2 linked regions of the Homo sapiens genome follow. The protein of the gene in region 2 purifies or fractionates together with the protein of the main gene of each other region. This does not show direct contact. Each region holds a gene or a part of one and is shown on either strand. Other genes may lie near its edges. The genes, in order: NLN and GPRIN3.

Region 1 (3,819 bases), on a different chromosome or scaffold from region 2:
GCTTATTAACATTCTGATATATTACATAATTAAAAATTCAAAGCTTTGTTTATGGATTTGAGAATCTGTAGCTGCTAGTTTTGACATGTACCATACAACATTTTAGTTTTATAGGAGGTTGGGAAAGAAAGGTAAACTCCTTCCTGATGTAAATGGTTTCCCTGTGTTTTGATATTCTCTACACACTTTGTGCACTTTCTGTGGGAGACGCCCTTTTTCTGTGGCTGGCATGCCCCACCCACTACATAGTTTGTGACCTTTGTCACAAAGTTGCTTCGTTAACCTGAGCCATTACTTTCTGTATGCAGTGAATTGACTGCCAGGTAGCTGCCAGACAAACCTTCCTGATTTACAGCCCCCAATCTCCATTCTCATTGAAGTCTCATCCATCAGATTATTTCCAAGGCTGATGCATTTTCCAATGTATGTTTTTAAATTCTTCGATTCAGAAATTAGAAGAACAAATTATCAAAATCAGGCTCTCTGTACTGATTTCAACCAATAGATTTTTTTCTCCAAATGTTTTTTCTAGATTGCATAGTACCTTATACATATGTATTGAAATACATTGATGTGATTTAGATCACCATTCCCTCCCCATCTTCCTCCTGAAATAACACCTCCAAGGTACCCATACTTCATTATTTTGAAGCATTTCATCTCCCATCCCACCCCACCCAATCTGTTAAGTCCTTGTAATTCTTTTTCCATTACCTGGCCAACCCATTTACAAAGGTCAACTGCTGACTATTGTTCTCACAGACATACCTATTCCTGCATGACCTTCAACCAGGACCCATCCCTTAATGCCTCCACCATAGAGATAGTGCCCTTAGGATTCAAAGTGTTCTGGGGAAGATTGTATGACTCCACTGACATGCCCAACTGCAAAGTCATGCATGTAGCCTGAACTGGACCCCAGTGTTCTCTGTGGTCCAACTCCATTCCCCTTATTGATTTCCCTCCAAGTTCCCACCACCTCTCTCATCTGTCAGCAGATGATCTCTCCTCTTTATTAAGAAAATTAAGATCATTGAAGCTGGCTGCAGTGGCTCACACCTGTAATCCCAGAACTTTGGGAGGCTGAGGTGGGAGGATCGCTCAAGTCCAGGAATTTGAAACCAACCTATTTGATATAGCAAGACCTCATCTCTACAAAAAATAAACAGAATTAGCCAGGTGTGGTGGTAGAAGCCTATAGCCCCAGCTACTCTGGAAGCTGAGATGGGAGAGTTGCTTGAGCCTAGGAGAGGTGGAAGCTGCAGTGAGCCGAGATCATGCTACTACACTCCAGCCTGAATGACAGAGTGAGATTATCTCAAAAAAAAAAAAATCATTGAGAATGAGTACCTTCATCTTTCTTTCTGTGTACTTCAATACTTGTCTTATTTTCTCCTGTCTCAGAGGAGATGTCTCTAGCTCCAGGAGTTCCTGGTAAGAGTTCCTGGTTTGCTGTCTTGGAAAAAAAACTTGCTACTGACTCTGATAACCCCAATCAGTGCTACTACTCTGTTCTTTTCACAGCCTAATTTCTTGGTATAAGAAGTCTTTGCAAACCTCTCTTTCCTTGCTTTTGCCCCAACCAACAGAAATGGAAAGTTACCCTTCCTCCGTAGTTACCACTGATGACCCAGTTACCAACTCCAAAGGCCCTCGTCCTTCTTCTTTACCTCCTGCTGCTTGTTATTCCTCTGTCTGTTCACAGCCCTCAGCTGGGCAATCAAACCCTTCTTTACTTCCCAGTACTCCCTGTGTGTTAGACAAGTTTATGTGTTCCCTTAGGTCTCTCCACCTTCACAAATTTATTCGTTCTATTTCGTTCACCTAAAATATATGCCTCCTTCATCTGTGCATCTCAAAAATTCCAGCAGTCTTAATTGAAGGTCTCACTCACATAACTGCATGTTCAAGAAGTCTTTGAAATTATCCAAAACCAAAAGTGATCTTTACATCCTTTGAACATATGAGTGGACTTGGAGGAGTGGACCAAGCCTTCCCCGTCACCTCCTCAGTGCTGCCACTATGTGACCACATACCCAGTACCTTCTCTCATTACCTTTTCTCTTCTCTTTTGGAGAACTGTCCCCAAAACAAATAGAAATTAAAAATCCAAAGATAAAAATAAAAAATGGAAAATAGACTAGTTTTTAAAGAAAAAAGACAAAAAAAAGTGGTCTTGAGCATGGAAGAAGGGCTTCAATAAGCTTTTACTATGTCTGCAATATTTAATGTAACTATTACCAAGTGAAAAAACATCATATTATAAAATATTTTATACCATACAATACGAATGTTGATTTTAAAGTGTGTTTTAAAAAAAAGTACATCAAAATGTCAATGATTATCTTTGGGGATAAGTTTATGAGTGATTATTAATTTTTTCTGTATTTTTCCTAGAGCTTTTCCTTATTTTTACATAGTACATAGATTATTTTAGAAGCCAGAAACAATGTTTCAAAGAGAAAAAAGTCTAACTAGGTAAAGGTACAATTATGACGTCTTACTGGCAATCATTGGTGAGGCTTCCTGGCATAAGTGTACACTGCCTCTCCCAGCCAAGCTTCGCCATCACCTCCTCTGTGCTTGCCCTTATGTGACCATATACCCAGAACCCTCTATCATTACCTTTTCTCTTCCAGCTGTCAAGGTAGCAGCCAAATTACTGATCCCTGTGGTTCCAAGGAACTTGCAAGTGTAATAGAAGCAATTCCTGCATTGTCTTCTCTATACTTCCTCTTATTCTCAGGCTTCACAGTTTGGCAGGCAGCCATACTACTCTTATTTAGACAAAGGTGCTGGGTTGAACTTAGAGAAAGCATCATCCCAACAACTTGGAGTTAAAACTTGTGATGTTGAAAACAATTTTCAGTGTTACTAAAATTCTGGATTCAGCAGTGCTGTTATTATTAGATGTCTTATGCCATAAGGCTGGTGTTAATTCCTTCCTTTACACTTTTTCCTTTCCTTTCAAATGCTCTGAGTATCATGGCACTTCCTGATCCTCTGCTGTCACAGCAATAATGGACCTGGCTCCAAAAGCCAAGAAGAATCCCTTGGCCCCTCACCCTCACACCCTTTGCAGATACTAAAAGATGATTTTTAAACAAACATTTTGTTCCCTCCTACAATATACTATTTGGGGTTTTTTGTTGGTGGCGGCGGGGGATGTTCTTCAAAAAAAAACCCACAAATATTTGCTCTAAAATAACACTTGCCTTACAAAATACAGGTACCCAGTTATTAAAAATTAATGCTTTGGGACAACAATCCTAGTCTCCAAAAAACTTAGATCATTATTATAGCTATGTGTGATGAAGAGAAAAAGAAATTCTTTTGTTGTCCCAAAGCATTAATTTTTGGTAACTGGGTACTTGTATTTTCTAATGTGAGTGTTACTTTAGAGCGAACATTTATTTTAAAAAGAAAAGAGGAAGAAGAACTCCCCCCACAAAAACAATGTATACCACGGAATACAGTGCAGCCAAGAAAAAGAACAAGATCTGAACCCAGAAGGCAGAGGTTGCAGTGAGCCAAGATTGCACCATTGCACTCCAGCCTGGGCAACAAGAGTGAAACTCATCTCAAAAAAAAAATAAAAAGAACAAGATCATGTCCTTTGTAGGGACATGGATGGAGCTGGAGGCCATTACCTTTAGCAAACTAACACAGGAATCAAAAACCAAATACCACATGTTCTCACTTAAAAGTGGGAGCTAAATGATGCGAACACATGGACACGTAGAGGAGAACAGCACACACTGGGGCCTTTTGGAGAAGGTGAAAGATGGGAGGAAGGAGAGGATCAGGAAAAGTAACTAA
Region 2 (3,919 bases):
AATATAGTCTTTTAAGTATGTTGAGGCATAATTAAGAAAATGTTGCAGGAACAAATAATTAAGCATATTGGGCAATTTTTTTGAGGCAATTAAAACACTCAAATTTCAAAACAGCTTGCTGGAATCCAGCCTGCCCTCCAATTGACACTGATCTGACTCATACAACGCCTCAGTCCTCTACTTCCCATGTGAAGCTGATGCACTTGTGATTTTGTCCTAATCATTTTCGTAGAAGTCTAGTTAGTGATTAGGTGAAGGCTCACCACACCACAACACACTGTACATGGCTCTCCATGAGTTCCTCTGCTGTTTCCAAAATAAATTTCAATCATATAACATCTAGGCCTGCAATTGCAATTGCTGTTTTTTTTTTCTCTTTTGAATCAATAACCTATTCCCTCGATTAAAGACACACAAAACTTGAAAAACTAAACACACACAAAAACTCGAAAAAGAACATTCTCTAACGCAAACTCCTGTCTTTTGCAGATAGCAGCAGAGATTTTCTGCTTTGGGCTGTGACTCATGTACCTTTATTCCCACAATTGTTACTCAGGGCAGGCCAATGGTGAGCACAATGGGAAAAGAAAGAATAGGTTATAACTGGAAAATAAGCACATTCGGGCGAAGTACACTCAAAGCATTATCAAAGTAAAATATGCAGCAGCACCAACAAGAGCAAACAAAAGCCCACGCAGGAGATGTGTAAATATTTCATGAAGCAAAGCCTTAATCAACCCTCTCTCCCAAATCTTGCTGGTGTTGTAAACACTTCAGTTTCTTCTAGTCCCACCATGACCCAGATACCTTGCAAAAACAAAATAAAAACATAGTCCAATGGATCTTTAAACAAATGTGTTGTGAAAATATTTAGATGGAGCATACCCAAGTACCGCTTTAACCAAGAGGAAGAAGACACCTTACTCAAAGGTGGGTGCTTCTTGAGTGACTGCTCAGAGCTCTGTTTCTCCCCTCCCCCTCCAAGCCCTTGCCTTTTGCCCACCTCCTCGGCTGCTTTGTGGACATTCACATCGTCTTAACCTTGAACTGCCTACACCCCAAGCGGTGATTTCTCCCAATGGCCCTCCAGAAAGCCCTTGAAACCTGGTCTGGATTCGATGCCTTCCCATCACCCAAAATTCACTTCCCAGTGGCATATTAAGTACCTCTCCTTTTTTCCCTCTTTCACTGTCCATTATTGCGTCTGAAATGATGCCTACATCGTTTCCATCTGCCTGGAGAGCATGAAGATCTTCTGTGTGTGTTGGCTGACAGGCTCCTTCAGACCTCTTCTAAAGCCCATCTTGAAAGAACCGTTTATCACCTCTAGTCTCTACCCTGATTTAATGTGGTTCCAAAGTTCGCCTCTATTAGTGAACATGTCTCTACAACGATTTCCCTTTATCAACCCCTGCCCGCCCTTCCTCTTCTTTCTGCCTACCTCAAGAAAACCTATTTACATATGCATTTATGTATGTGTGTGTATATACACACACATACATACATCCATATGTAATATATATTTCTATGTTTTGACCTTAAAGGGGATAAGCATAGGAAAATGAGACAAATGTCACACACACACACACACACACACACACACCCCTCATATTCGGATATTCGCAGTGTGCAGACCCGATTGATTATAAATTTCCCTGCCCACGATCAGCAGGCGTCTTCTCCCATTTACCTTCAAAGCCAGAGCCAAAGAGAGCAATGACCTTGCAGAGAAATTCATCACCTGCGAGAAAGACTGCCCCTCCTAGAGCGCAGGATGGGACAGAGACAAGAGCAACAGGCAAAGGATCCCTGTGCAAAATGTGGGACCGAATCCCTTCCGCATCCCTACAGAGCACACCACCAGGCTCCGGTCCCCCGCGCTGGCCGCCAGGCGGAGGTGCGCAGGGGGCGTCTCCTACCTGCTCTGCCCGGCTCCGCGGCGCGGCGGGGCCACTGCCTGCGCTGTGGCGGGGGCTTCCCGTCGCATATCCCAAGCACCGTCTCTCGGCGCCACACCGATGGCTCCGGCGGGCCCGCGAGCTGAGGTCCTTCTCAGCCCGGTCCCGGAGCGAGCTCCGTGCGTTCAGGAACTGAAATTACTATGCCAAGAGCAGAGGCGGCGCGCAGCAGTCGGGCGTAGACCGAGGGGGCTGCCCCCACCGCGGGGCTGCAGACGCCGCCGCCGCCCCCGCCGGGCGCAGAGCCAGTTTGGAGGTGAGAGTTCACTTGCCCGACTGTTCATCCGTCAGGCCCGGGGTGTACCCATCTGTCCAGCGCTGCCCAGCCTGAGCATCCGAGAGAGGGGCGACAGCTTTGCAGGCGGCGGCGGCGGCAGCAGCAGCGGCGGCAGCAGGAGGCCGAGCTCCGCCCCCTCCAAACCCCCTCCCCCGCCTTCCCGGTCCTGGGGGAAAGTGTTGCAGCCCAGGCTGCTGAGCGCCGGGCCGGGAGCTAGGAGGGGTCTGGTGGGTTGTGGTTCTGCACCCCTGGAGACCAGAGACAGATGGAAAGTTAAGAAGGGATTAAGGAAGAGGGCTGGGGACCCAGAGCGATTTAGCAGGCATTCTGGCCCTTGCTCCCTCCCACAGGTCACCAGACTCCATGGCTGAGTCTAGACTCTAGCAGAAGGTTTCCAATAAAGCCACGTGCAGTGGAGATCTGAAAGCAAGATCATCCGATAAGTAATATGTTTTGCAAAATGTACAGTATCCTGCGTATTCGGAGAGGCACTGCTGACAGTGTTCCTGTCCCCATCCCCTTCCCGCTACCCCATGGGCTTGGAGGGCTTTGAGGGCTTTGGAAATCTTCCCTGTTGAGCAGCTCCAGAATCCTGAATGGATGTGTAGTATGGTTAGCAGCTGTAGATGGTGCAAAATGATACGATGAAAAGAGCTTCATTATTAACTGGGTATTTGTTGGAAGGCTCTGTGAAAAATGCCTTACATACAGCCTCAGCCTCTTTAATTCTTACTACAACCCATTGAGGTGCCTTACCATGTGGACGAGGAAACAGGCTTATATGATCTAAACACTTTGCTTGAGGTCACACAGTAGTAACCTGCTCAGCTGGGATTCAAACCAATCCAAAATATATCCTCTCATCTAGTACACAGGACTCACCTAGGGGGTCTTGTTAAAATGCTGATTGTGATCCAATAGGTCTGGGGTAGGGACTGAGGAAACGCTTTTTTAGTTTTTTGTTGTTGTTGTTTTTTGTTTTTTGCTTCGTCTCCTAGGCTGGAGTGCAGTGGCGCGCTCTCGGCTCACTGCAAGCTCCGCTTCCCGGGGTCAAGCGATTCTCCTGCCTCAGCCTCCCAAGTAGCTGGGATTACAGGCGCCCACCACCACGCCCGGCTAATTTTTGTATTTTTAGTAGAGACAGGGTTTCTCCACGTTGGCCAGGCTGGTCTGGAACACCTGACCTCAGGTGATCCGCCCGCCTCGGCCTCCCAAAGTGCTGGAATTACAGGCGTGAGCCATGCCTGGCCCAGGATAGGCATTTCTAACAAGCTCCCAGGTAATGCCCATGCTACTGGCCAAAAGATCAAACTTTGCGGCACTATTCACAATAGCAAAGACTTGCAACCAACCCAAATGTCCGTCAATGATAGACTGGATTAGGAAAATGTGGCACATGTATACCATGGAATACTATGCAGCCACAAAAAAGGATGAGTTCATGTCCTTTGTAGGGACATGGATGAAGCTGGAAACCATCATTCTTAGCAAACTATCACAAGAACAAAAAAACAAACACCGCATGTTCTCACTCATAGATGGGAATTGAACAATGAGAACACATGGACATAGGAAGGGGAACATCACACACCGGGGCCTGTTGTGGGGTTGGGGGAGGGGGGAGAGATAGTATTAGCAGATATACCTAATGTAAATGAGAAGTTAATGAGTGCAGCACACCAAC

The links.
Region 1: the proteins of GPRIN3 (region 2) and NLN purify together in Homo sapiens (affinity purification with mass spectrometry; one large-scale study listed by BioGRID and IntAct). This does not show direct contact.

The regions. Positions count from the first base shown.
Region 1 is NC_000005.10:65,812,608-65,816,426, forward strand, and holds part of NLN (neurolysin, mitochondrial), read left to right. Parts: intron 1-3,819. UniProt on the Homo sapiens protein: Hydrolyzes oligopeptides such as neurotensin, bradykinin and dynorphin A. Acts as a regulator of cannabinoid signaling pathway by mediating degradation of hemopressin, an antagonist peptide of the cannabinoid receptor CNR1.
Region 2 is NC_000004.12:89,305,696-89,309,614, forward strand, and holds the start of GPRIN3 (G protein-regulated inducer of neurite outgrowth 3), read right to left. Parts: upstream 2,106-3,919; 5' UTR 1,920-2,105; exon of another isoform or gene 1,691-1,919; intron 1,376-1,690; exon of another isoform or gene 1-1,375. UniProt on the Homo sapiens protein: May be involved in neurite outgrowth.